7 linked regions of the Homo sapiens genome follow. The protein of the gene in region 1 purifies or fractionates together with the protein of each later gene. This does not show direct contact. Each region holds a gene or a part of one and is shown in the gene's direction. Other genes may lie near its edges.

What was found.
Region 2: the proteins of KDM6A (region 1) and BOD1L1 purify together in Homo sapiens (affinity purification with mass spectrometry, with the first as the bait; one large-scale study listed by BioGRID). This does not show direct contact.
Region 3: the proteins of KDM6A (region 1) and KANSL3 purify together in Homo sapiens (affinity purification with mass spectrometry, with the first as the bait; one large-scale study listed by BioGRID). This does not show direct contact.
Region 4: the proteins of KDM6A (region 1) and DET1 purify together in Homo sapiens (affinity purification with western blotting, with the first as the bait; one study listed by BioGRID). This does not show direct contact.
Region 5: the proteins of KDM6A (region 1) and ASXL2 purify together in Homo sapiens (affinity purification with mass spectrometry, with the first as the bait; one large-scale study listed by BioGRID). This does not show direct contact.
Region 6: the proteins of KDM6A (region 1) and N4BP2 purify together in Homo sapiens (affinity purification with mass spectrometry, with the first as the bait; one study listed by BioGRID). This does not show direct contact.
Region 7: the proteins of KDM6A (region 1) and SETD1B purify together in Homo sapiens (affinity purification with mass spectrometry, with the first as the bait; one large-scale study listed by BioGRID). This does not show direct contact.

The regions. Positions count from the first base shown.
Region 1 is NC_000023.11:45,110,098-45,113,650, forward strand, and holds the end of KDM6A (lysine-specific demethylase 6A), read left to right. Parts: coding exon 1-152; intron 153-1,284; coding exon 1,285-1,314; 3' UTR 1,315-2,682; downstream 2,683-3,553. UniProt on the Homo sapiens protein: Histone demethylase that specifically demethylates 'Lys-27' of histone H3, thereby playing a central role in histone code. Demethylates trimethylated and dimethylated but not monomethylated H3 'Lys-27'.
Region 2 is NC_000004.12:13,568,667-13,572,673, reverse strand, and holds the end of BOD1L1 (biorientation of chromosomes in cell division protein 1-like 1), read left to right. Parts: intron 1-2,234; coding exon of another isoform or gene 2,235-2,238; exon of another isoform or gene 2,239-2,539; intron 2,540-2,545; coding exon 2,546-2,663; 3' UTR 2,664-3,936; downstream 3,937-4,007. UniProt on the Homo sapiens protein: Component of the fork protection machinery required to protect stalled/damaged replication forks from uncontrolled DNA2-dependent resection.
Region 3 is NC_000002.12:96,631,624-96,635,630, reverse strand, and holds part of KANSL3 (KAT8 regulatory NSL complex subunit 3), read left to right. Parts: intron 1-4,007. UniProt on the Homo sapiens protein: Non-catalytic component of the NSL histone acetyltransferase complex, a multiprotein complex that mediates histone H4 acetylation at 'Lys-5'- and 'Lys-8' (H4K5ac and H4K8ac) at transcription start sites and promotes transcription initiation.
Region 4 is NC_000015.10:88,536,308-88,540,314, reverse strand, and holds part of DET1 (DET1 homolog), read left to right. Parts: intron 1-3,933; exon of another isoform or gene 3,934-3,980; coding exon of another isoform or gene 3,981-4,003; intron 4,004-4,007. UniProt on the Homo sapiens protein: Component of the E3 ubiquitin ligase DCX DET1-COP1 complex, which is required for ubiquitination and subsequent degradation of target proteins. The complex is involved in JUN ubiquitination and degradation.
Region 5 is NC_000002.12:25,875,394-25,880,175, reverse strand, and holds the start of ASXL2 (putative Polycomb group protein ASXL2), read left to right. Parts: upstream 1-1,688; 5' UTR 1,689-1,953; coding exon 1,954-2,010; intron 2,011-4,782.
Region 6 is NC_000004.12:40,101,564-40,105,570, forward strand, and holds part of N4BP2 (NEDD4-binding protein 2), read left to right. Parts: intron 1-511; coding exon 512-1,655; intron 1,656-4,007. UniProt on the Homo sapiens protein: Has 5'-polynucleotide kinase and nicking endonuclease activity. May play a role in DNA repair or recombination.
Region 7 is NC_000012.12:121,824,418-121,828,424, forward strand, and holds part of SETD1B (histone-lysine N-methyltransferase SETD1B), read left to right. Parts: intron 1-782; coding exon 783-949; intron 950-3,101; coding exon 3,102-3,233; intron 3,234-3,317; coding exon 3,318-3,437; intron 3,438-3,515; coding exon 3,516-3,653; intron 3,654-4,007. UniProt on the Homo sapiens protein: Histone methyltransferase that catalyzes methyl group transfer from S-adenosyl-L-methionine to the epsilon-amino group of 'Lys-4' of histone H3 (H3K4) via a non-processive mechanism.

The DNA.
Region 1 (3,553 bases):
TTTTTGTCACTAATGAGAGTAATTCACGAAAGACCTACATAGTACATTGCCAAGATTGTGCACGAAAAACAAGCGGAAACTTGGAAAACTTTGTGGTGCTAGAACAGTACAAAATGGAGGACCTGATGCAAGTCTATGACCAATTTACATTAGTAAGTCAAATCAACATGTGAGTACATAGTTAGCTGGGTTATGAAGCAGCAGTGTTTGCTCTGCCACCTGATAAGTAGGAGGTAATGAAATATTTTAAATTTTCCTTTGGCTCATTATATATTGCATGAGGGTATATTCATATCATTCCCCCCTCCATTTCCAAGTATTTATTCCTATAAAATTGGCATATATCATTTTCAGTTTTCCTGGGTGAGACCAGCCTAAATAATTTTACAACAATTACATTTAAAAATCTTTGCGTGCTTTAGATAGAACACTATCATATCCTTTATGTCATTTTATCTCAGTTGATAAAATGTTTGTGTACGTAGGTTATTAGAGCCCACAAAATGAATCAGTAAGTGTGCTTTTAAATATACTTCTGCTTTTAGAGCTAATTGTATTTGTTTAAAATTTTGTCCTTGCCAGAAGTATTAACCTCATGGGAGTATTTAATGGAGCTTAACTTCCTGGTATATTATGTAACCTTATGAAATTCAAGTATACTTATAAATTGCACAGTTTTTAATTTCAGACAGCAGATGCTTGGGGGAAGCATTTTACTTTCGCAGATCAATAGCTTTATGAATAGAAACACAGAGATAATTTATGAATTGTTGATTTTCTCCAGTACTTGTCTCCCACACATATGTGATCAGAAACTAACTTTTTGAAATTTACTTTCTGATATTTTCACTTGAATGGTCTTCAAGATTGCTTGAAGAAGAAAATTATCTGAAATATGTTGAAGAAAATATATTACCTAGCTGAGATAGATTCTGAAGGCAGTCACTAGTGAAATTGTAATTTGTTAAATTATTTTGCAAGAAGCCCCCTTTTTTTAAGCAATCTTAAAAAATGGTAAACGTAATAACATTCCAAGAGTTTTTGACTAATTGGTGAAGAAGTATAGAAAATTGCAAGTACACTGAGTAGGATAATGGTCTTAGATTCTTAGGAAGATTGGCTGAATGGGAGATAGTAAGGTAGGCTGTACTTTTATGTTGCATAGCAGGCTGTTGAACTTTTTGAGAGTTATTTCCCCTAACTTCACAAGCAGACTATATGTTTGTAGCCATGAGCTATTAACAATTTGTATATCAAAATAACCTACCTTACTTTTATTTTCAGGCTCCTCCATTACCATCCGCCTCATCTTGATATTGTTCCATGGACATTAAATGAGACCTTTTCTGCTATTCAGGAAATAACCCAGTTCTGCACCACTGGTTTTTGTAGCTATCTCGTAAGGCTGCTGGCTGAAAACTGTGTCTATGCAACCTTCCAAGTGCGGAGTGTCAACCAACTGGACGGGAGAGAGTACTGCTCCTACTCCAGGACTCTCACAAAGCTGATGAGCTGTACTTCAGAAAAAAATAATAATTTCCATGTTTTGTATATATCTGACAAAACTGGCAACATCTTACAGACTACTGACTTGAAGACAACCTCTTTTATATTTCTCTATTTCTGGGCTGATGAATTTGTTTTCATCTGTCTTTTCCCCCTTCAGAATTTTCCTTGGAAAAAAAATACTAGCCTAGCTGGTCATTTCTTTGTAAGGTAGTTAGCAATTTTAAGTCTTTCTTTGGTCAACTTTTTTTTAATGTGAAAAGTTAGGTAAGACACTTTTTTACTGCTTTTATGTTTTTCTGTCTTGTTTTGAGACCATGATGGTTACACTTTTGGTTCCTAAATAAAATTTAAAAAATTAACAGCCAAGTCACAAAGGTAATGGATTGCACATAGACTAAGGAATAAACTTCAGATTTGTGATTTTTGTTTCTAATCTTGATGTAAATTTACACTATTTATAAATACATATTTATTGCTTGAAAATATTTGTGAATGGAATGCTGTTATTTTTTCCAGATTTACCTGCCATTGAAATTTTAAGGAGTTCTGTAATTTCAAACACTACTCCTATTACATTTTCTATGTGTAAATAAAACTGCTTAGCATTGTACAGAAACTTTTATTAAAATTGTTTAATGTTTAAAGAGTTTTCTATTGTTTGAGTTTTAAAAAAGACTTTATGTACAGTGCCCAGTTTTTGTTCATTTTTGAAATCTGATTATATATATTTTATATATACTTATGTATGTATATATAATATATATAGAAATCTGGATATATATGTATAAATCTTTAGAACTTAAATTTTTCTCGTTTTAAGTTTCACATCTATGGTAGATTTTTGAGGTGTCTACTGTAAAGTATTGCTTACAAAAAGTATGATTATTTTTAAAGAAATATATATGGTATGTATCCTCAAGACCTAAAATGTCAGACTGGTTTATTGTTAAGTTGCAATTACTGCAATGACAGACCAATAAACAATTGCTGCCAAAATGTAGTATAATAGTAGAAAACAAATAGTGATTGAACTTAAGATTTTAAAGGGACTGTTATATGGGCTTGACAAATCCTGTACAATACTTAGTACCATTTTATATGGAAAAGGGGATTCAGGATGAAGGGCTCTATTTTAGAATGCAAATAAATTAAGAGACTTATTTTTTAATGTTAGGCAGTTTTGAAATCTCATGCTTTTTTGCTTGCATGACATGATTTGGGGGAGGAGTGCTGCAAATTCCCTATCACTAGTAAAATATAGCAATCTATATTAGCATTCACAAGTCACTGCTAATTAATGATAGTATTTCATTTTGTAATAACAGCACCTTGCATTTGTACCTCCATTTTCTGACGCATTTGACACATACTCTCATTTAATCATATTGTTCTTTGTATGAATTTTCCAGGAAGCATTAGTGAAGAAGCATAGAGAATGCTGTAAATCAAGATTATATATATATATGGCTAAAGAGAGCTTATTCTATCTAGTGAAATGCCCTGCTGATTGCATTAATCACATACTCTTTCAGATTTAGAGTATGTTATCCTCTTAGAAACAGTTTGAAGGTTGAAAGCATGGAGATACTTTTTTCGATTAGTTAATAATTTGGTAAATATTGGCTATCTACTAGAAGTAATCATCTCTTATTTATAATTTAAGGGAAAAATGCCAAATCTATTTTAATTATGGAGCAAGAATGCTTGTCTAAATGCTATTCAGGACATTTAATCACTAATATTTTTAAGTGGTTTTCTTGTAAAATCTCCTATCCAAAGGTTATTGAGAACTCAAGACAAACATTTTTGCAAACAAAAATTGCAAGCCAACCATCAAGAAGCAAAGATTATAAGAATGCTGAAGCACCACCTAAATGTTTCTTAACCTGTTCTAGTTTATCTTACTGACACAATGTCTTATTTTCTATGATTTTAAGATAGTTTATTGCCAAGATTAATTTATCTGACATTTAAGAGAATAAGTTATCTGGCATTTAGATAAATTATCTGACATTTAAGAGAAATTTAGTATAATTCATATTTG
Region 2 (4,007 bases), on another chromosome or scaffold:
TTTTAACCCCCTAAGACTATTTTTGGTACAATAATGCTTTCTTCCTAATTTCCTTTAAGATTTTGTCTCACCAAATAACTGTTTTTGGGGATCATTGGTTTCCAAGAAGAACAGGAAGGGCTGCAGAAGGTGTCTGTGTGGCCTCACCAGTCTGGCCTTGCCGCAGTGGACTGCCACACAGGCTTGTCCTTGACACCTGTGAGCCTTATCTGCCTTCTCCCATCCACCAAGACCAAAGGCAAGGCAGTGTGGTAAAGCATTTAACAGCCCAGAATCATTTCTGTTTTAGCTAGAGCATTGGAGAGGTGATGAGGTGATAAAGCTTCCTCTTTCAGGCACGGCCCCTGCCAGCTTACACCTTTCACTGCAGCCTTACTGGTCTTACTGCTTCCCAGAGGTGGTCCTGAGCCTTCCTTTCTTGCCTTTGCTTGAGCCAGTGAGGAGTGTCCTCACCACCAGCACCCCTAGTAAGTCAGATCCTTTCCGTCCCGCTTCAGCCCATTTTCATCTCTTCTTGCTGCACTTCTGGTCAGTACTGGGCACTTGAGATGCCACATAGCATTGGTTTGGTATATTCCTTTTATTTACCCCTCTGAGCTCTAGGTTTCTTTCTTGAGATAGGAATTTGTCATACTTTCTATACATTATCATATTCAAAAATAAAAGACTCTTCACTGTACACAAAAACTGTTTTGACCTCTTACCACATTTTCATCTTCACAGCATACTTGTATGTATGTGCTGTTTTCCGCACATTCTAGAAACGAAAGCAAACTATAGTGCCAGGCAGTTTCACATACATGCTCTCATTTAACCCTCAGTGAGTGAATTGTAATAGTTACTCTTATTTTATATGTGAGGGAAAGAATCTCAGGAAGGTTTCCATGCATACTACTCAAAATTGAACATGCAGTCAAATCACTTGAGGCTGTTGGTAAAATGCAGATCCTGGGTCTGTAAGTCTAGGCTGGGGCCTGAGAGTTGGCATTTCCAACAAGCTCCTCAGTGACCAATGCCCCTCCTCACAGACCACATTCTGGGTGGACTAGAAGGGCCTGGATAAACTACGAAGCTCACATGGCTGGGGAGAAGCAGCCTGACTCAGAGCTTCTGTTGGCTGCCACTTGGCCCCCAGCACAATACTGCGCACGGCACCTTTACTGAAGAGGTGTTCATTGAGTGGCTGGTGGCTTTCCATGGAAACAGTTTGAAATGGATTATCAACAAACACATTTTCAGTCATTGTCAACACATGTCAAAACCACATCATCTGCAACAATTTTTGACTCAGTTTATTTACTTTTGCTGTCAAACAAGAAACGGAAGACGTGTCTTCATATCACTAAGAGTCCCATTTCTCCATCTCCTGCAATTTTGGTTTTCCAACTCTTTGATTCATTGACAGGACATTTACTGCCCGCTTGCCATGTGTTGGGCATTGCACTAGGCACTGGAGTTAGAAAAATGAATAAATCTCAGCAGCTGCCCTAGAGAATCATCGTGTCTAATGGGGGAGATATATGTGTATAAGACTTTCAAACTTTTTTGGCAACAACCCACTATAAGAATATTTTGCAATACAGCTGGTGCTCACATTCCTGCTGCTGTAACTGAAACAAAATTTCATGAGTCAAATTTAATAGATGTGATATGAGTGGTATTTTCTGTTGTGTCCTATTAACATGTTGTTTTAAAATATTGATTGTAACTTGCAGTTTGAAAAAACACAGCAGATGAATCACAATGGTAAATGCTGTGGTAAAGACCTAAAGTCTTCATATCAATAAAGTCACATTTCTCTGTGGGGGATTCCAAAGATGGGGCATCTTGCTTTGTGATGTGGAAGGTGCAGGACTACAGGCCCAGATGGTGCACAAGTAGAAGGCAGAACTATAAAAGGCTCTGGATGATTTTCTCCTGAAAGCATCAGAGACCCAAGAGGAACTTCATACATCTCTAGGACAGTAACATGATTAATTGGAGTTTCCAACAAATAATTTTAATCACAGACTATATCAACAGGGTATGCTGGTGATAGGGAGATTGGTTAGAATGTTCTTCTGAAATTCCCGTGCCTTTTCTAACACAGGTATTTTCTGTAATACTGTGCTACGAAACATGATTTTGCACTTGGTCCAACCTAGATTGCAGTCCTGCTGTGTTCTTGCTAGTTGTTTGAACTTGGGACAGTCTGTATATTGGTGGGACCCGCTGTTGATGTCTTTGTTTTCTAGATGAAAGAACTAGGGCCCAGAGAAGGAAGTGGATTTGAGCACCATCAGCACCTAGAGTGTGGTAGAGCTGGAACCAGAGCACAGGCTTCAAACTTCTCTTCCAGTGTCCTGTGTTTGTGTGTGAGGTTGACAGCAAATAACCAGTTAGTTCAAGCTCTTCGCGAGGTAGCTCCTTTTCATGTATAAATGTTACTGGGTTTTTCTCTTCTTAGCTGTCAAGTTCAAAACTCTTCTGTTTTTTAAGGAACTCCCAAGTTATTTGAAGCAGCTGCTTTTAAACCTCACCATTGCCTTGACTTTGCTTAATGCAGATCAAAGACACAGCTCTCCCCTTCTATCAAGCGCAAGAGAGAAGTCAGCCCTCCTGGGGCCCGAACAAGAGGCCAGCAAAGGGTGGAGGAAGCCCCTGTGAAAAAAGCGAAGCGATAATCCTGACCACTGCTGCCCTAGGCTTATGGAGGAACACGGTGGAGAGGAAAGAGACATGCCTTGGTGGCCATAGGCTTCTCTTTAACCAGGAAAAAGATATGCATGTGCTGTAAGTCCCTAGGTGCAAGCTTTTTCTTGTTATGTTTTAAACAGCTTTATAAACTATTGTTCATAGAAGATATTATGTACATTTATTTCAGATAAAGGACAATAAGTTTACTTTGTATCTGAACTCAAAACAAAGTAGTTGTATATTTTAACATTCAAAATTGGGATTTCCCAATGTGACACATCATGAATGCAAACCCCTCCAGCCCATCAGACGCCAGGCTGCCTACTGGTAATCTGTGTATAGTATATAAACATGTAAAAATAGGTTGTATTTTACTCTATGTATGATGCTAATCAATGAACACTTTATTTATTTTACAGAGAAAACTTATCTGTGAACTTTACTATATATCTGTTTATTTTACTTTATTTTTTTTTTAAATAAAAAGGGTTTTAAATGCTATGCAGTCATTAGTAGAAAATTTTTTAGGACTCTGCCTGCTCTGTAACTATCTTAATATGATCTGGCAGAAACTCGCATGTATCCAAGTAAAGTAGTTTAGCTAAAGAAAGGTTCTTCATTGCTTTTCTGTTCACAGTTGTGGCTCTGTTTTTTAAGAATGTAACTTGTTTTTAGATTATACTTGCATCTGTGACTTTACTACCAGCCACGTTGACACAAAACAGGTTCTGGTTCAGGTAAAGTTGCGTCAGTCACCTGCAGCAGAAATCCCTCTTCATTCCTCTTCTCTGTGTTCATTCCTCTTCTGTGCTGTTCTGAAGCTTCTACCAATACTCTTTCCATATTGTCTTTTTCAGTGAAGAGAAATGCATTCAAGATTAGGTCCCTCCTGTCTATCCAGTTTCAGGATTTTATGTTGTTTTATACACAGTTATTTCAGTATAGAAACTGGCTTTATTGCCAAGTGTTTTTTTAAACATGTTTTAACTCTCATATGAGCAAACTGTCCAACTTCAGTTTTTCATAAGATTAAACTTCTTACGATCAAATTTGTCTCTTGCAATGATGTGATGAGTTGCCAAATAATTGAGATTATTTTAAAATGTTTTGTTCATATTCTTGTTTTATAATTAAAATTTACATTCAGTGTGTATGGGTTTTTTTTTTTATTTTGACTCTTAATGTAAGGTGGATATTTCTGTCATTTTACATGGTTTCTTACTGAGATTTTATATATAAATTATAAAATGTTTACCAAAATTTGAGTGGTAAGAATTTTATTTGTGTGTTTTAAAATGTGTCTGCATGAAAACCATTTCTTCTCTCTAAAT
Region 3 (4,007 bases), on another chromosome or scaffold:
TTTGGTGTACAGGAGATAAAATCTGTAACTTTAGGCAATAATTTAGCATAATCTTGATGCCTCTGGCCTAGGGCATAACTGAAAAGCTCCTTTAAATAGTAGTTGAAGTCTTTTCCTTTTTTGCTGCATATTAGCTTCTTGCTGACATTAAAACTCCTGTGTCCACATCTCATGACATTTTCTTAAAGTGAGATTCTGTGGACTTGGTTCTTTTGGTACTTAGAAAATTGTTTCCTTTTATAATCTCTGTCTCCAAATATAGACCCTGAAAGTGAGAATTTGGCATGCTGTAAGAACTCTTTTAGGCCAGTGTGGCCAGAATATAATAGCAGTAGGGGTATAAGTGGGAGGTAGGGAGAAGTTGGCAAGGGTTACCTCGTGAAGGAATTTGATTCTAAGAGTGGTAAGAAGTCACTGAAGGATCTTAAACTAGAGATTCAATTTATACTTTAAAAAGATCATTTTGGATTTTTTGTTGAGTATATTATAGTGCAGGAGTAGAACTTACAAGACCAGCTGCAGGCTGCCACTGCAATGGACTGAGATGGGCCAGAAATCGTGATATCTTGTATAGGGCAGGAACAGTACAAATGGAGAAATATAGATGACTTTGAGATGTATTTCATAGGTAGAGTGAATAGGTTAATAGGATCTGCTATGGTGAATTGGAAGGAAGAGCAAGAACCAGGGTTAAAGGGAAAGGTAAAATTAGGATGACAGATTTCTGGCTTGAGCAGTTGGGTGGTGCCATGAGTTAGGGAAGACTGGAGGAGGATAGGTTTGTGATGGTGAAATCAAGAGTTCTCTTTTAGCTACACATATCCAAGTACTAGCTCAATGTCTGGCCTGGAGAAGATAATCAGCTCTTTTGCCCACCACCAAATCTAGCTGCACATGATTTCATTTCATTTCATAATGATGTAATTATTTCAGTCATTGGAAATGGATGCAGTAAGGTCACTGAAGTCAAAAAGTTAACATAAAGTTTGGCAGGTAGCCACTAGACCAGTTTGTTTGGCATAGTATTTGGGGTGACAAAGTTGGTGCAATGTATCATAAAGTGGGGAAGGACCCTTGGGGCACTAGGATTTGTTTCTTACTTTCTTTTTTTTTTTTTTTGAGACGGAGTCTCTGTTGCCCAGGCTGGAGCGCAATGGCGCAATCTTGGCTCACTGCAACCTCTGCCTCCTGGGTTCAAGCAATTCTCCTGCCTCAGCCTCCCAAGTAGCTGGGATTATAGGCACCCGCCACCATGCCTGGCTAATATTTTTAGTAGAGACGGAGTTTCACCATGTTGGTCAGGCTCGTCTTGAACTCATGACTTTAAGCAATCCACCTGCCTCGGCCTCCCAAAGTGCTGGGATTACAGGCGTGAGCCACTATGCCCAGCTAGATCTCATTTTAAAATATGAAAGACCTTTAGATGTTCATTTATATTTGTTTCTGTTCTAGGCTCTGTACAAAATGAGCTAAGTAGCTAAGGTATGTGCATTCCAGGTCATCTGTCTTAGATAATCATACAGAAAGGAAATCATAGACTTTACAGTATATATTAAATAACTACCAGTTGACTTGCTAATGAAAGGGAAAGTTTGTATGAATTTAAAACTCTAGACCAGCACTGTTTAACAGAACTCTCTGTAATAATAGGAATGTTCTATACCTGGGATGTCCAGTGTGGTAACTGCCGCCACGTGTATCTGTTGAATGCTTGAAATGTGGCTAACGTCACTACGGAACTGAATTTTTTATTTTTTTATTTTTTTGAGACGGAGTCTTGCTCTGTCACCCAGGCTGGAGTGCAGTGGTGCAATCTTGGCTCATGGTAACCTCCGCCTCCCGGATTCAAGCAATTCTCCTGCTGCAGTCTCCCAAGTAGCTGGGACTATAGGTGCACGCTGCCACACCCAGCTAATTTTTTGTGTTTAGTAGAGACGAGGTTTCACCATGTTGCCCAGGCTGGTTGCAAACTCCTGAGCTCAGGCAATCCGCATGCCTCTGCCTCCCAGAGTGCTGGGATTACCGGCATGAGCCACCATGTCCGGCCTTTTTTTTTTTTTTTGAGACAGAGTCTCGCTCTGTTGCCCAGGCTGGGGTGCAGTGGTGTGATCTCGGCTCACTGCAACCTCCGTCTCCCGGGTTCACGCCATTCTCCTGCCTCAGCCTCCTGAGTAGCTGGGACTACAGGCACGTGCCACCACACCCTAATTTTTGTTTTTTTTAAGTAGAGATGGGGTTTTACCATGTTGGCCAAGCTGGTCTCGAACTCGTGACCTAAGGTGATCCACCCGCCTTGGCCTCCCAAAATGTTGGGTTTACAGGCGCGAGCCACTACGCCCAGCCTGAATATTTAATTCTATTTAAATTTTTTTTTTTTGGGCCGAGGTCTCTGTCACCCAGACTGAAGTACAGTGGTGCAATTTTGGCTCACTGCAACGTCCGCCTCCCAGGCTCAGTTGATCTCCCACCTCAGCCTCCCATGTAGCTGGGACCACAAGCTAATTTCTGTATTTTCAGTAGAGACGGGGTTTCACCATGTTGCCCACACTGTTGAACTTGTGGGCTCAAGTGTTCTGCCCACCTTGGCCTCCCAAAGTGCTGGGATTACAAGCCTGAGCCCTTGTGAGCCCTTGTGCCCAGTAATTTTTTTTTTTTTTTTTTTTTTGAGATGGAGTCTCGCTCTGTCTCCCAGTCTGGAGTGCAGTGGCGCAATCTCGGCTCACTGCAAGCTCCGCCTCCTGGGTTCACACCGTTCTCCTTCCTCAGTGTCCTGAGTAGCTGGGACTACAGATGCCTGCTACCATGGCTGGCTAAATTTTTGTATTTTTAGTAGAGACGGGGTTTCTCCATGTTAGCCAGGATAGTCTCGATCTGACCTCGTGATCCACCTGCCTCAATTTAAGTAGTCGTGTGTGGCTTATACCTACTGTATTGAACAGTATCTAGGCAATCAACTTGTTAGCCACTTTTCTCCATTTGTACTGTTCTTGTCCCTAAACGAGCTCTCATGATTTCTGGCCCATCTCAGTCAACTGCAGTGGCTGCCTAGCTGGTCTTCTAAATTCCACTCCTGAGCTGTAGCCTACTAAACAAAAATTGAAAGTGATCTTTTAAAAATATTAGCTTGAGCCAAATCAACTTGCTTATGGAATATATTGTCCTTTTTTTTGAGACTGGGTCTTGCCGTGTCACCCAGACTGGAGTGCAGTGGCATGATCAGAGCTGACTGTAGCCTCAACCTCCTGGGCTCAAGCAAGCCATCCTCCCACTTCAGTTTCTGGGACTGCAGGCGCATACCACCATGCCTGGCTAATTTTTGTGTTTGTTTTAGAGACGGGGTTTTGCCATATTGCCAAACTGGTCTTGAACTTCTGGGCTTAAACAATCCTCCTTCAGCCTTCCAAAGTACTGGGATTACAAGTATGAATCACTGTGCCTGGCTATATTTGTCATTTATTTATTTATTTTTTGAGACCAGCTCACTCCTGGGCTTAAGTGATCCTCCTGCTTCAGCCTCCCAAGTGCTGGGATTACAGGTGTGAATCACTGTGTCTGGCTGTATTTGTCATTTATTTATTTATTTTTGAGACCAGGTCTTGCTCTGTCACCCAGGCTGGAGTGCAGTGATGCAATCATGGCTCACTGCAGCCTTGACTTCCCGGGTTCCAGCAGTCCTCCCACCTTAGCCTCCTTAGTAGCTGGGATCACAGGTGTGTGCCACATGCCCAGCTAATTTTTGTATTTTTGGTAGAGACAGGGTTTCCTCATGTTGCCCAGGCTGGTCTTGAACTCCTGAGTTCAAGCAATCCACCTGCCTCGGCTTCCCAAAGTGGTGGTATTACAGGTGTGAGCCAGTGCACCTGGCCCATATTTATCTTAAAAAAAAAATAGATGTTTATCATTTTTTATATAGACTCATTGAAAAAATGACTTTGTGTTCTTCCAGTACATACCATCATGTCTGAGAGGGCAGAGATCTAGACAAGTGTGGGAAAGATGACTTTGGA
Region 4 (4,007 bases), on another chromosome or scaffold:
TTGCTGTAGCTTTAAGATTGAGGGAGGGGGACTAGAGGCCAGCCTGAGGTCTCCTGGGTCAGTTGGATCTAGGCGTTCTCCCTCTTCTTCTAGATCTGTACCCTAAATACCTTTGGTGTCTCCATGACTCAAAGGCAAATAGCTTAAATTTAGCTCTTTCTTTCAAGGGTTCAAGGAGCGAGAGCAGAGCCAAGTCCTGGAGACACTGAACTTGCTGTCGCAGTGGAAACCGAAATGTGCAGAGTAGGGGGCAGGGACGAGGGGGAAAGGGACCACTCAGGTCATTTTTAAGATGAGAGAGTAGCCACAGGGGAACAGAGTAGGAGTCTAAACGAAGTAAAGCATGACAGGTGTAGGTTTCCCTACACAGTGTTCTGTTTAAGGGCACAGGAAAAGTTACAGAATGACAAAAAAGGTGAGCAAGGAAATCTGCAGGGTGGCTGTTTTGAACCCACCACCGGTTTAATCTAGAGGAGGTCCAATCACTTGGATGTGGGGTATGGCAATCTAAATGCCCACAACTTCCATGGTGCCAGAGATTTCAATCAGATGAATGTTCTTCACACTCATTCCTGTAACAACACCTTACTTGCCTCTGGCAGAAAAGACAGGACTGTGGTGGCCAGCCTGAACAACCGATGAGAAATTTAACCTCTTGTGACAAAAAAATCAGCACTAAGGACCTTGAAGAAGTTTTTACCCAGACGTCTTGGGCAATACCGACGTCCTGACATGCAAAACCTTGACAACCACTAAACAAGACAATAAACACTAAGCAGAAAAATAAACATAAAACAAACAATTTGACCCTAGGGCAGGTAAACAGTTTTGACAGTTTTTTCCTTTTTTTTTTTTTTTTTTTTTTTAGACAGACAAGGGGGGGCCCTCCCGTGATGGGATCAGTCAGATGCCCACCTGGTCACTTCCCCTGAGGGGACTTGGGCTCCTCTTAGCATTGGCAGGCCGGTATAAACCCCCGGCTTGGATCGAGCTATGTCCGATGCTGCCTTAAGCCTTGTGAGGTCGCCCCAGAACTGCAGGTGAGGGCCCACTCAAACTGTGTAGCTTTCGCCGTGGAGCTACAAACTGGAAGACAAATGCAAGCCTTTGTCCTCCCACAGTCACTCACCATTCACAGAGTTTATAACAGTTTTTTTTTTCTTTCCTGGAGATTCTCCAAGAAACTTGAATAAGAGAAAGAGAGAGAGAGAGAGAGAGAGCGGTCTGCCAGAAACCAAGGCTCAGCTCCCCAGCATCCTGGGTCTTCAGCTAAGTCCAAGGGAGGGGCCTGATCAGGACCACTTCCCACCTAAACCAAGACACAGAGGCGCCTACCAGAAAACCAAGGCTCAACCCAGTAGCGTCCTAGAGTAACGGGCTGAGTCAAAAGAGGGATGCCCTCGTCAGGGCCACTTCCCTCTTACCAGAACCAGAACAAAGTCAAATCTGACCTACCTGACCCCGGGGTGAGAAGCTGAGGACTCAGATGTTGAATTTTAAGGCACTGACATGGTAGTCGATCCACTCTCCTCCGGAAGGTGGTCACTGTTTGGGGACCTGAAAATTCTTTCCTCAGGTGGTAACCCCCTCTGAGCCGGCCGTCCTTCCGGGGGAGCCCGGAGCAAGACCAACTCTCACCCAGTGGCATTAATTTCTCGCTGGGGCCTCCATTATGTTGTACCCGGGGTGTTAGAGAAAACGCCACACTTTGAGACTAATTAAGAGTCCTTTACTAGCCGGTGACCGAGAGACGGCTAATGCTCAAAATTCTCTCAGCCCTGAGGAAGGGGCTTGATTAACTTTTATACCTTGGTTTAGGAAGGGGAGGGGGGGTCTAGTTAAAACAATTTTACAGAAGTTAGGTAGTCAAAAAGTTAAAAGGATAAATGGTTACAGGAAAGTAAACAGTTCCAGGTGCAGGGGCTTTATGACTATTACAAGGTGATAGACGTGGGGCTTTGGGTGTTATCAATCAGATGAATTCTTGGGGACTGTGGATATAGCTTGCCACAGTATCTTATCAGTTAATTGCATTCTTGGATGTGCTGGGAGTCAGCTTGCACAAGTTAAGTCCTTGAGGAAGGGGCTGCCAGTGAAAGAGCCAAGATGGAGTCTGTCTGGCTCTCTTAGCTAAGGGAGAGTCTAAAAACAGAGTTAGTAAAAACCAGTTTGGGCATTACAAGTGTCCCAATTCAGTCAGGCTTTCTTCTTTCGTTCCATAAAGTACCAAATGCCTACCATGTGCCAGTCCCAGTGCTAGGCTCTGAAAATACCGCATGACCGAGGTAGACCTGGTTACTTCCTGTCTGGAGAGTACAGGGTAGCAAGGGAATCAGACATTAAACACAAGCATGCAAGTGAAAGTGTAAATACAACTTGCAGTGATTACTATGGAGAAGACAAAATGTAATAATAACGGGAGTCCTGTTTTAGATAGGATGGTCAGGGAACACTTCCTAAAGGAGACTGCACTTAAGCTGCAACTTGAGAAGTTACAGCAAGGGGCAGGGGAAATGCATTCCAGGCAGAGGGAATAGTCCCTGTGGATGCCTGAGTTGACACAGAACTTCCCGTTAGACAGGTCCAGTGTTCAAGAAGGGAGGCTTACCATGTGTCAAACACTGTGATGAGCATACAGAATATAGTGTTTGCGTACTGGTCGGTGGGACATCACCATCTAATGAGGGCCATAAACATAAGTAAGATCTTCATCTCAGCTGCTCAACTCTGCCTATGTAGGGCAAAAGCAATATGTAAATGACTGGGTATGGGAGGGTTCCAGTGAAATTTCATTTACAAAAACTGGGAGGTAGGGGTCAGGTGTGGTAGCTCATGCCTGTAATCCTAGCACTTTGGGAGATCAAGGCAGAAAGATCACTTGAGCCAGGGAGGTCCATGGTGGTACCACTGTACTCCAGCCTGGGCGACAGAGTGAGACCCCAAAAAATCCAGGAGGTGAGAGATGGGCTAGATTTGGGCTGAGGGCGGTAGTTTGCAGACTCTTGCTCTAGTCTAGATCAGTATACATTTTATGTCTTTACTCAGTGCATGTAACTCCAATATAATTGAAATAAACGTTTTACAAAACAGTGCTTACCATTGCAATATATGATAGCTTGATACTTTCTATTTCATTTTTTAAAATGTCCGTAATACTATTCACTAAATTGATCCAAGGCTCTATTCATGAGGTGTGACTAGCAGTTTGAGAAACTTGCTCAGTCATGGAGGTATGTACATTTTTAACTTGACTGGGTATTATATATACTTATATAAGGCATTTGGAACCTTTTCAGAAGGAGACAGAATATGAATAAATACCTCATTGTGTGTACGTTTTAAAATACAGATTGGATCCAATCGCTCCCCTGCTTTCCAGTCTTTTTCTAGGCCTCTCTTATCACTCACTCTGTGCTTCCTGTGCTCTAACCACTTGAAATTGCTCTGTTTCCCAAATGTGCCATGTCATGCTTTTTAAAAATGTGTCTTTTAGCCTTTTAGGTACCTTTTTATCTAGTTTGTTCCTTTTTTTTTTTTTTTTTTTGAGATGGAGTCTTGCTCTGTTGCCCAGGCTGGAGTGCAGTGGTACAATCTTGACTCACTGCAACCTCTGCCTCCCGGGTTCAAGCAGTTCTCCTGCCTCAGCCTCCTGTGTAGCTGGAGTCCCCGCCACCATGCCCAGCTAATTTTTGTATTTTTAGTAGAGATGGAGTTTCACTATGTTGGCCAGGCTGGTCTCGAACTCCTGACCTTGTGACCTCCCTGCCTCAGCCTCCCAAAGTGCTGGTATTACAGGCGTGAGCCACTGCACCCGGCCAGTTTGTTCCTCTTTTACTTTGTTTAGTGTATTCTTATTCTTCAAGGCTCATACCAATTGTTGCTCCATTAATTATTTTAACATATTTATGAGCGCTTAACTGTCCCTTCTCCTAGGTGCTGGGAATACAGCAAGGAATTAGACCAGTTCCCTGCTCTCTGGTATGGTGGGACAGATACTAAAAAGGTAA
Region 5 (4,782 bases), on another chromosome or scaffold:
TCTTTCTCTTTCTTTCTCTCTGTCTCTCTTTCTTTTTTGAGACAGAGTCTTGCTCTGTTGCCCAGGCTGGAGTGTAATGGCGCGATCTCTGGGCTCACTGCAACCTCTGCCTCCCAGGTTCAAGCGATTCTCCTGCCTCAGCCTCCCAAGTAGCTGGGATTACAGGCGCATGCCACCAGGCCCAGCTAATTTTTGTATTTTTAGTAGAGATGGGGTTTCTCCATGTTGGCCAGGCTTGTCTTGAACTCTTGGCCTCAAGTGATCTGACCACCTCAGCCTCCCAAAATGCTGGGATTACAGGCGTGAGCCACCGCACCTGGCGAGAAGGCCTTCTTAGACTACAGACATAAGCTTTGGAGGGAGGTGGTACATACTACCTGTGTAATGCATAAGGCTATGAATTACCAAAGACATTTGGGAAAATATATCCATATCAATTGCTGAAATAGGCTGTTTGATCCATGACTGAACGGAAATATAAGGAAGTATCTAGATACTTCTAGATGGCCTCTCAAACTCCCTTTAATATCTTTTTCTCTTTTTTTTTTGCACAACAGATCCTTTTTGAAAAATGGAGGAAAAGTTATGAATCCTCTTAAAAAATTCACATATAACACACAAAATATAGTTCATAATTTTAGGGAGTCCATGAATTTCTGAAACGCATCCATAAACTTTAAGTATTGCTCTCACCTGTCTTTCCTCCCAAGAGGCAATCCAATCCTCAGTCCTATTTCACACTATAGTAAGTTTACTGGATTGTTTGGAAGCAGCTTCTGGAAGCAGGTGGATTTGGGAGATCAGCAGTTGTTACTACATTCTTCTTACTTTGCAAGGTATCAAGGTGTAGATGATGTAAGAGAAGATGCCACATTCTGGATCTTTCAGAAAGCTGTTACGGATACTACAAATAATGGTCTCTGACCACAGAAATAGGTGAATCATTCAGCAAATATTTACTGGGCGCCTGATATGTACAGGCACTATGCTAGGGACTGAGCTCACCGAAATAAAGAAGACACCATTTCTGTCATTGATGAGTAGCTTCACATGTAAAAGCATGGATGCAGTTACTGGTGGCCTTAAAAACAAAGTCACCTAAGTTTGAGGCATTCTGGGGAGATGGAAAGGGCTCTGAGCTGGCAATTTGATTTTTGGTTTCTCTACATCCCAGACTTATGAGCTTGGCAAGTCACTCAATCTCAGTTGCTTCGCCTATCGAATGGGGTTAATAGGCAGACGAGAATTGTTGCCTATCTTCAAAAAGATAACCTCTGTAAAAATGCAAATAAATGAGAAAACACAAACGCAGGGCTGATCTAAAGTGATAGTTGGCAGAGCCACCCACTGAGGGAAGAGTTCAGCTCCCCAGGTCTACACAGCCTGTGCAGCGCCTCGCAAGAGGCGGGATCCGCTCAGTAAGCTTTCCCGGATGGCACAGGTTCCGCTTCCGCAGGCAGATATTCGCTGTAGGTGTGAGCGCCAGGCGTCAGACTACAGCTACTGCCGGGGCCTCCTTGGCGCGCATGCTCCTGCGGAGAGGCGGAGACCGGAAGGGCGGGGGCGTGGCGAGGTACCGCAGACCGCCGGCTCGATAGCTCAGCGGCCGGGCTTGGGAGGCGGGGGCGCGCCCGCGCTCGTTCGCGCGGCCGGCTGCGTACAGTAGTGACGGCCGCGCGGGAGCGGTCACATGACCGTAGCGGCAGCCTGTACAGTAAGAACCCAATATGGCAGCGGCGGTAGCAGTGGCAACGGCAGCAAGAGGACCGGCCGCCCCATAGACCCCCCCGCGCACCACCCCCGCCGCTTCCTCTGCTTGGGTGCCCCCCCGGTCTGACTTCCCTTTTCTCCCACCTTTCCCGGCACCGCGGGAAAAGCAGCGCAGGGCAGAGCAGGCAGGGAGGGCGGCCGGAGCCCGGACACGGGAGCCTCCCAGTCAGTTCAAGACCCGACATGAGGGAAAAGGGACGTAGGAAGAAGGGCAGGACCTGGGCGGAGGCCGCCAAGACGGTAAGGGGGAGGGAGCGAAGGGGAAGGCCGGGAGGATTTTGTTCCCTTGTCGCCCGCCAGTCGCAGGGAAAGGGAGGTCACTGGCCCAGGGACCCGGCTGAAGGGGCACAAAACCGCGCGGAGAGGGCGGCGGTTAGTGTCGGGGTTGCGATCCCTGTGGGAATGGAGGCGCCCGGCGGAACGTGATAGCCGCGGGGCCGTGGCGTCCCTCGGCGTCTGCGGCGAGTCCTCTCAGTGTTTTGAGGCTGTCTTTTGGGGTCGAGCCGATATCACCTCCGCTCTGTGGTAGCCCTCGCCCCGGCACGGGGAAGTCTGTGGTGCTTGCACGGTAACCGGTTCTTCTCCCTTGTGCGGCTGGAGAGCCCCCATTGGATGCAGATAGGAGAAGGCTTGTGCGTGCATCCAGCCCCGGAAAGGAGAGGGGAGCGCTGGAGCTGGATAGAATTTACCCGTTACAGCGGACGTGCCTGTGACCCCGGGCCCCCTGTTTGTCTGGCTCCCGGAGCAGACGAGAGATCACGAGGCTTTTGTTTTTGTTTGGTGTTGGAGCCGAAAGTGCAGGAGGTGTTTAGAAACGAAGTAACAGGTGGGACTTGTAGAATTTTTTTTTTTCCTGTTTCCGTAGAGACCTACTCTGAACAAGGCAGCAATGCATGGTGGGACGTGTAGTTTACCCGGCCTTCACGTTACCCTAGCCAAAGGGATGGTGCCCTAATGAAGTTGTAATTAGTGGGCAAAACAATTTTCCCCCTAATTGTGTTATGACGAAATTTAGAGGTAGATTTTAAAAAGTGGAATATTGAGGATTAGTGAGAACTTTTACCATATTTTAAGAAGAAAAAATTAAAAGCATGTTGTATGCAGAAATGAAATGGCAGGAGATAGTGAAGTTCATACATCGTTGAGGGTGCAGCAGAAAAGTAATAGGGCATTAAACGGCAGCATTTTAATAGTGGAAAGTGAGAGGTGTTCACCCCTTTAATGGTGATTAATGCCGGTAATACTTCGACAACGTAGCCCTTCTTAGTGAACCCTTATTAGATGCCATATGGTTTATTTTTTAATGAGTTTTTTAAATATAAAAGTAATGTTCACTGTGGGGAAATTTGGAAAATTATAAAAAAGTATAAAGAAGAACATTTAAAAAAAATCACATTTATTTCACCGCTCGGCTGTATCTGCTAACATTTGGTATATTACCGTCTAGTCTCTTTATTTCCCCAAATCTAGGTCATACTGTTTATTCAGTCTTGTGCATTTGTTTCTAAACTTTGTGCATTTGTTTTGTAAACTTTATGCATTAGGAGGTTGATGAGTTTTCAATTTGTATCTCTCTTAGTTGGAAATGTAAAAAAGTTAAGAAATAATAGCACATTTTACTTACTGGGTGTTTTCACTTACAATATGTCTTTGTATATCTTCCTGTGCTAGTAGTTTCCCTCTAAAAGATAAGACTCCTATACTTTTTTTTGAAGGTGTAGAGGTTGCATCCCCACAGAGGGCTGTTTTACTCTCAGTATACCTCAAGACCTCTTTCTGTTAATAAAAGAAGCATGATAAATTTTAATTATAGGTAAGCAGACCTGGACCCTAATTTATGCTAATTAATTTTAAGTTCCTAGGGTCTTTAAAATTGTTTTTTTAATTAAAAATATTTTGTAGAGACAGGGTCTTTCTATGTTGCCCAGGCTAGGCTAGTCTTGAACTCCTGGGCTGAAGCAGTCCTCCTGCCGTTGGCCTCTCAAAGCACTAATATTACACAAGTTTCTAGAATCTTAGGAGTGTTTTTTGAATTATGATCCCTTTGATAAAATAGTCATTGGGAGATTGCGACAAATAGGAAAAATTAGTCTGCATCTACTTAGCTTTTCCTATGTTAGTATATTTGCTCATTTCATGCCCTAGCTAGCTATGTGAAAAATAGTATTTAAAAGATGGAAAGACTACTTTGATCAGTAGAGTTCCTGAGGGTACCAGTATATTAGTAGCTTGGTATTTTTCTTTGATTCTGGCAAATACATGAAGCCCCAGTCTCAGTGAAAATGTGTTTTAGAAAGAGAATGATGACACTAAAGTTTTTCTAGTAGCCAAAATCTAGAAAACACTCTTAATTTTGGGGGGTTATTTTATTACCTATAAGTGAGGGGATTAAACTAAATCTCGGTGTTCAAAATATTTCTGTTTTTGGGATAAATAGATGAAAATAAAAGAAGGACCGGGCAAAGGTACATTTGTAATATTTCAGACTGTAGAATAATGAAATCAGAAAATTAGTGAGTTGACAAATGAAAGTAACTTTGACCTAAATAAGAATGTTAGTATTTAGATCCAGAGGAATAGGAAAAGAAGTTTTAAGGCTTAAACTTATTTCTTAGGCATTAGGATGTCAAGTGTTCGAGGAACAGTTTCATCAAGGAAGCAGGTGTCTGTTTCTTATTTCATGTGTTTTTGATACCTCCATTGTAGAGCTATCATGTTTTAGAGAGTACTATTAAAATAAGGTTGTTTTCCTGACCAATAATATACCAATAGATATATTCAACACATTAAATGTAGATATGTGATACTGGGATGATACGGGGTGTGTGTGTTTATGTGGGAGAGCTACATGGTTTGATGTAAGGTTATTATAAGCAAAATAATAAGATTCATAATTATTATCATTATTATTATAATTGTATTTATTTATTTAGAATCGTTTTGCTATGCTCTCCAGGCTGGAGTGCAGTGGCTTCACAGGTATGATCGTGGTGCACTAAAGCCTTGAACTTC
Region 6 (4,007 bases), on another chromosome or scaffold:
TTTTTTACAAAATATTTCTGATATGCAGTACATGCTCAAATATTCTTTGTAGTAAGTGAAATTCATAGCGTGGATCATGTAAATAAGTTAGATTTACTAAGAGAATACATAAAATACTTAATATTTAAAAGTTTGCATGCAATAGGTAAGTATTTGTTAAACAACAGGCTTTAGGACTTTTATAAATAAGCCTAATATGTCCAATTACAGATATTTATGTATTTACTCAATTCAGCAAATAATATTTATTTGATGATAGTTTATTAGCTTGGTTTATTACTGTTTTCCTGAAAGAATAGGATTGCATGTCTCCATCATTCAGACTTTTTGCTACTACAGACTTTGGTATGTTAATAAAATATTAATTTTTTAAAAATAACATGAATATTGTACATTTATATTCTGTTCAATGCAAAATCCAATATAATTTTAGCTGGATTTTAATAAAATTATTAAATCTGTTTTCTCTGTCTATATTTTTGTTGTTGTTATTATTCTTGTTGTTGTACAGTTGAAAATGCTATGGATTGTCTATTAGAATTATCTGCCACTGATACCAAGATAGAAGAATCATCTTCACAAAGTTTCGTTGCTTCTGAGAACCAAGTAGGTGCAGCAGAAAGTAAAATAATGGAAAAACGTCCTGAAGAAGAGAGTGAAGATTCAAAAATGGATTCATTTTTGGACATGCAGCTAACTGAAGACCTGGATTCCTTAATACAGAATGCTTTTGAGAAATTGAACTCTTCTCCTGATGACCAAGTATACTCATTTTTGCCTTCACAAGATGTTAATAGTTTTAATGACTCAAGTGAGTTTATAAATCCTGATTCAAGTAATATGACTCCCATTTTTTCTACACAAAATATGAATTTGAACGGTGAAAATTTAGAGAATTCTGGTTCTACTTTAAGTTTAAACCCATTACCTTCACATTCAGTTTTGAACGAGTCCAAGTGTTTTATAAAGGATAACACATTGGCTTTGGAAAGTAACTACCCGGAAGATTCTCTTCTCAGTAGTTCTTTAAATGTAGCAAGTGACTCCATCGCAGGTTGTAGCAGTCTCAATCAAAAACAGAAAGAACTTTTAGAATCTGAGTGCGTTGAGGCTCAATTCTCTGAAGCTCCTGTAGATTTGGATGCCAGTGAACCTCAGGCTTGTTTAAACCTTCCAGGGCTTGATTTACCAGGTACAGGTGGGGATCAGAAATCTACTCGGGTCTCTGATGTGTTTCTACCTTCCGAAGGGTTCAACTTCAAGCCACACAAACATCCTGAACTGCCAACTAAGGGGAAGGATGTGAGTTACTGCCCGGTACTTGCTCCTCTCCCATTGCTGTTGCCTCCTCCGCCACCTCCACCGATGTGGAATCCAATGATTCCTGCTTTTGACCTCTTCCAAGGAAACCATGGCTTTGTAGCTCCTGTTGTAACCACAGCTGCACACTGGAGATCTGTCAACTACACATTTCCACCCTCAGTTATTTCTCACACTTCCCCAACAAAAGTATGGAGAAATAAAGATGGAACAAGTGCTTATCAAGTACAAGAAACCCCAGTTTCTCAGGTTGTAAGAAAGAAGACATCTTACGTTGGACTAGTTCTTGTTCTTCTCAGAGGTCTTCCGGGATCTGGAAAATCTTTTTTGGCAAGGTATGAGGTTTGATTGGGTTTTTAAAAAATAGTATAATGTCTGAATTTGAACACAAGTATGAATAAATAGGCAAAATGCTTTGCTTAGTAGAGATCTTTAGTAACCCCTAAAATGTTTTCTTTTTACTAAGGTTTCCTAACTTTGTGTAGCTAATAACACTGTTTTCTGTGGAAGTTTATTGAAACCGTTCATCTTGGAATATCTCTTTGAAAGACAGAAGAAAAAATTAAAGACAATTTCAAAATTGTGAGCTATTGATGTAGTAGTAGAAGAGAGCTAATTTGAGTGGGAGAAAGATGAGTTCAGCTTTGATCACAGAGTTAAAGAGATATAATTGATCTTGATTTCATGGAATGGAAGACTTAAATACATTAATTTTACTGGTAGTTGGAAATTCAGGATTATAGAGTGTTGTTAAATAATGCTTTTAGAAATGTGTGATTTGAAGGAAGAGAGTATAGGATGACAACTGGTAGTCAGAGAACTTCAAGTTTTCAGGGACTTTTCTGTTCCAAAATAGAGTACCATCAGTTATTTGATCTCATATATACACCTTTATCCCTTCTGTAGTTAAGGTAGGCTGTGAGTGCCTTAATCTGGGAGACAGGAGTCAGTGTTAGAGGCAGCTTTGTAATGGTTTCAGTGGCACTCCTTGAAGAGTATTGTTTTCATAGTCCCTCTCTATCCCTGCTTAACCTTTAAATTCCAGAAGATTTCACCTAATCTATTTTATATGCTAGTTCTTTTTTTTTTGAGACGGAGTCTTGCTCTGTTGCCCAGGCTGGAGTGCAGTGGCGCGATCTCGGCTCACTGCAAGCTCCGCCTCCCAGGTTCATGCCATTCCTGCCTCAGCCTCCCGAGCAGCTGGGACTACAGGCGCCCACCACCACGCCCAGCTACTTTTTTGTATTTTTAGTAGAGACGGGGTTTCACCGTGTTAGCCAGGATGGTCTCGATTTCCTGACCTCGTGATCCACCCGCCCCGGCCTCCCAAAGTGCTGGGATTACAGGCGTGAGCCACCGCGCCTGGCTTGCTAGTTCTTTTTTTTTTTTTTTCCTTTTTCCAAATTTTAACCATTAGCCTTCTAACATTATCAGTTGGGTCTCTATTTGATCCTGGGTGTATCTAGTCTAGTCTTAATGAATATGCATAGATAACTGGAGAATGTCCTTCATAAACTTATTTTTAGTTTTTTTTTTTTGATATCTTTTCTGTGTCTGGGTTTCTCTGCTAGTAAATTTCCACATATTCTGCTGATACACTTATAAGCATATTTTTCAGTAGACATGTAGGCTTTTCTAACTGACTTAATAACAACAACAACATAAAACAATTTAATATTATAGATGTTACTGTCAGTCATGGCAGTGTGTTTCATGAAAGAGATTGGACTGAAAGGTGGTACCTTAGAAGGCAGTTGAGCTGTGAGACAAGTTTGAAGAATAGGTTTCAGGGGCCTTTAGAATCAGAGGCAGCTACAGTGTGGGTAAAGAAAAATGTGCTTTTCACAAGGTAGAAACTTAATATTTTTTGAATGAAGAGAGAGAAATAACAGGAAGAGTGTTGAGACATAGAACCTGCGTTGTCTTTTTTTTTTTTTTGGAGACAGAGTCTTGCTCTGTCGCCCAGGCTAGAGTGCAGTGGTGCGATCTCGGCTCACTGCAAGCTCCGCCTCCCAGGTTCACGCCATTCTCCTGCCTCGGCCTCCGGAGTAGCGGGACTACAGCCACTGCCACCGCGCCTGGTTAATTTTTTGTATTTTTAGTAGAGATGGGGTTTCACCGTGTTAGCCGGGATGGTCTTGATCTCCTGACCTTGTGATCCGCCCGCCTCGGCCTCCCAAAGTGCTGGGATTACAGGCGTGAGCCACCACGCCCAACAATCCTGCGTTGTCTTGAAGAGAATGGTCTAGTATTCAAACCAAAGGAAAACGATGAGTGGAAAAAGCCTTTTGAATTTATTGGAAAGAAGGTCATAAATGGATATCTGAGAAACAATTTTGTTGTCCTGTGAGGACAAAAGGGTTTAACAAGCTCTGATGATGGAGTTAAAGGAAGGAGAGAAGTTGGGTAGTAGTTGAAAGGGGTCCCAAAGTGTAGTTACAATTTTTTTTTTTTTTTTTTGACAGAGTCTGACTCTGTCACCCAGGCTGTTGTGCAGTGGTGTGATCTCAGCTTACTGCAACCTCCACCTCCCCAGGTTTATGAGATTCTCCAGCCTCGGTCTCCTGAGTAGCTGGGATTACAGGTATCTGCTGCCACCCCCAGCTAATTTTTATATTTTTAGTAGAGACAGGGTTTCACCATGTTGGCCAGGCTGGTCTCAAACTTTTTTTTTTTTTTTTTAAGAG
Region 7 (4,007 bases), on another chromosome or scaffold:
GGACGGATCACTCGAGGCCAGAAGTTTGAGACCAGCCTGGCCAACATGGCAAAACCCCATTTCTACTAAAAATACAAAAATTAGCCGGGTGTGGTAGCACATGCCTATAATTCCAGCTACTCTGGAGGCTGAGGCAGGAGAATTGCTTGAACCCGGGAGGCACAGGTTGTAGTGAGCCAAGATCGCACCACTGCACTCCAGCCTGGGTGACAGAACAAGACTCTGTCTCAAAAAAAAAAAAAAACTCTGCTAAGGACCATAAGCATATTTCATCACTTGCAGAGAGGCATCACTGTCACCCCAATTTACAGATGGGAAACTGAGCAGAAAGTTGTTAAAACACCCAGCACTTTGGGAGGCCGAGGTGGATGGATCACTTGATCTCTGGAGGTTGAAGCCAGCCTGGGAAACATAGCAAAACCCCATCTCTACAAAAAAAATCCAGAAATTAGTTGGGTGTGGTGGCGCACGCCTGTAGCCCCAGCTGCTCAGAAGGCTGAGGCTGCAGTAAGCTGAGATTGCACCACTGCACTCGAGCCTGGGCAACAGGAGACCCTGTCTCAAAAAAAAAAAAAAAAAAAAAGACACCTAGAGCCATGCAACTAGGTATTGACCGTCAGCAGGGTTGGTCAGCGGGCAGCCACGTGGAGGTGGCATGGGAGTGGGCAGTAGAACTGGACATCGCTGTCCCTGAAGGGTGGTCTGAGGATGGGCGGGACCAGTCTATGAAGGGACCAGAAGGGGCTCTCAGAATGTCCATGTGGCCCTTGACCCACACCCACCCACCAGCCTCTCTTCAGCTAAGAAGAAGAAACGGGACGATGGCATCCGCGAGCACGTGACGGGCTGTGCCCGCAGTGAGGGCTTCTACACCATCGACAAGAAGGACAAGCTCAGATACCTCAACAGCAGCCGTGCCAGCACCGATGAGCCCCCCGCAGACACCCAGGTACTGCCAGGGCTCCTGGACACATCAGAGCCTGCTGGGCTGGGCCACGGGGATCCAGGGCACTCATGGAGGGGTGCCAGGCAGAGGGAGGAGTTGTGAGGCCAGAGGGGCTGGCACACAGAGGGTGCAAGTGGAAGGGGAGAGGCGGGTGGGCGGGGCCTAGGAGAAGGAAGGAGTTTGCCTTAGTCCCATGGGCCCTGGAGCACCTCCAAAGGGTTTAATTAGGGATGTGACGGAGCTGTATTTCCGCAAGTTCATTCATTTTTTGTTTTTTGCTTGGGTTTTTTTTTTAGGGGGGGACAAAGCCTTGCTCTGTCACATAGGCTGAAGTGCAGTGGCACAGTCTCAGCTCACTGCAACCTCTGCCTCCTGGGTTCAAATGATTCTCCTGCCTCAGCCTCCTGAGTAGCTGGGATTACAGGTGCCCACCACCATGCCTGGCTAATTTTTTGTATTTTTAGTAGAGATGGGGTTTTGCCATGTTGGCCAGGTTGGTCTCGAACTCCTGACCTCAAGTAATTCGCCTGCCTTGGTCTCCCAAACTGCTGGGATTATAAGCATAAGCCACATCGCATGGCCTCATTCATTCTTTTTTTAATCCAGTAAATATCTGTTGAGTACATGCTGTGTACCGGGCACTGTTCTGGGTCTATAGCAGTGAACAAAACCAAATCCTATTCCTCGTGGAATTTAATTATTTATTTTTATTTTTAAATTAAAAAAAAATTGAGACGGGGTCTCACTCTGTAGCCCAAGCTGATCTGGAACTCCTGGGCTCAAGCGATCCTCCCGTCTCAGCCTCCCAAAGTGTTGAGATTATAGGTGTGAGCCACGGTACCCAGCTGGAATTTATATTTTAATGGGGACTCATAGGAAATAATCAAGTGAAGAAAGAAGCACGTAATTCCAGGCAGGGAAAATGCGATGGAGAAAACAGGAGAGGGGTTAGGGATTACCAAGTCAAAGGGGAGTCAGAGAGGGTCAGACCCAGGCGAAGTGTGGGAAGGCGCCATGTGGATGCCAGAGAGACTACAGAGAAGTGAAAAAGCGACTTCCATAAAAAGTTAAAACCAGAGAGGGGCTCACTGACCCCAGCAGGCCTCCCTAGGACAGCAGCAGTGCAAAGGCCCTGAGGCAGCAGGGAGCTCCATGGTGTGAGGAAGGGAAGGGAGAGGCCACTTGTGGGAGAGACAGCACAGGCCACCAGGGTCGGGGGTACTGTGGTGGTAAGTGACCTGTCTCCTGGGGTGACAGGCAGCAGAGGGAGGTTGTGAGAGGAGCTGGGGTGGTGTGGAGCTGGTGCAGGGGTCCTGAGGGCAGACTGTTCGGGTTGCTGCGGTTTCCAGACCGGATGTGCCGGACTTAGCTGGGCCGCGAGGAGCCATTAGCTGTGGAAGAATATGAGGAAGTGGGATGGACAGGACCAGGGCTGGCCTGGGTACAGGAGACAGGGATGGGCGGGGGGTGACAGCCCAGGGTGTGGCTGGGGTCGGGGGTGCTGGGAAGCTGGACACCAGGCCTGAGATGGGGAGGCTGATATGCTATCACCACGAGGCAGCTTGAGTTCTGCGGGTTCTGAAAACACCCAGGCAGAGAGGTCTTGGTGGGCATGTGGGTATGGCGGAGCTTAGGATGGGGATCTCCGGCCCGGGGACCTAAGTGTAGGCATCGCCAGGAGAGAAGTGGTGACTGAAGGTCACAGCAGGGTGACCTCACCTGGGAGGGCACTTGGGGCAGAGGCCTGGGATGCTCCAAAGGTTAATGGCTGGGGCAGAGGCCCAGGGAGGCCAAGAGCAGGACGTGACACAAGGGTTTCGGAAGGATCCCCGATTTTGAACGCTTGTGGGGTGAGAGGGGTCTGGGTGAGAGCCAAGGAGGGGGTCAGGGTAGACAAAACTTTCGGCTGAAATGGGGAAAAGACAGCGCCAGGCAAGAGTGAGTCTCGTCGTTTTGAAGATAGAAGGAGCTTGAGACGCTCAGATACTGATGGGATGGAGGAGGCAGGGAAGCGGTGACAATTAGGGACCGACAGGTGTGGAGAAGCCCAGAGCAAGGAGCCCAGGACACTGGGGATGACAGAGATCCAGAGCCTAGGGTGGGACCGCCGAGGACACGGCCAGCTCCGCTGAGCCCCGCACACCGTCCACTGCAGGGCATGAGCATCCCAGCACAGCCCCACGCCTCCACCCGGGCAGGCTCGGAGCGGCGTTCGGAGCAGCGCCGCCTGCTGTCCTCCTTCACTGGCAGCTGTGACAGTGACCTGCTCAAGTTCAACCAGCTCAAGGTGAGGCCGGGCTTCACCCAGATCGCCGGGGTGGCGGCAGGACCTGAGACCGGGGCTCACCTCTCCCCCTCTTCCCTCCCACAGTTCCGGAAGAAAAAGCTCAAGTTCTGCAAGAGCCACATTCACGACTGGGGCTTGTTCGCCATGGAGCCCATCGCGGCTGACGAGATGGTCATCGAGTACGTGGGCCAGAATATCCGTCAGGTAGGCACCGCCCGGCAGGATGGGCACCGGGGTGGGCATGGGGCCGGCCCAGCCAGACTGACCCCCTTTTGTGGCCAGGTGATCGCAGACATGCGGGAGAAGCGTTATGAGGACGAGGGCATCGGGAGCAGCTACATGTTCCGGGTGGACCATGACACCATCATCGACGCCACCAAGTGCGGCAACTTCGCGCGCTTCATCAACCACAGCTGCAACGTGAGTGCCCAGCGGGGGGTGGCCCCTGCCCCTGCTCCTGCCCCTGGCCCTGCTTCTGTGCCAGGAGGGCCTGGAAGCCCCGGCACGGGAATCAGCTCGGCCTCCTTCCCAAGCTCAGGTTGGCCAAGGGTTATAGGGAGAGGAGGACATGTGAGGTCTTTTACCAGGAGCTCTACTCCTCTGAGCCTCAGTTTCTCATCTGTCAAATGGGCATAGTGAGACTTCTGTGGCATTTAGAGGACTCAAAGAAGTGGTTGGTTCAGTTCATTGGTAATTTCGGAGTTATTTCTCTGCGTTAGCCTTTTCTCCGTGCCTTCATTGGTCAGGCTCAGTCCTGCTCGGGCCGAGCTGTCC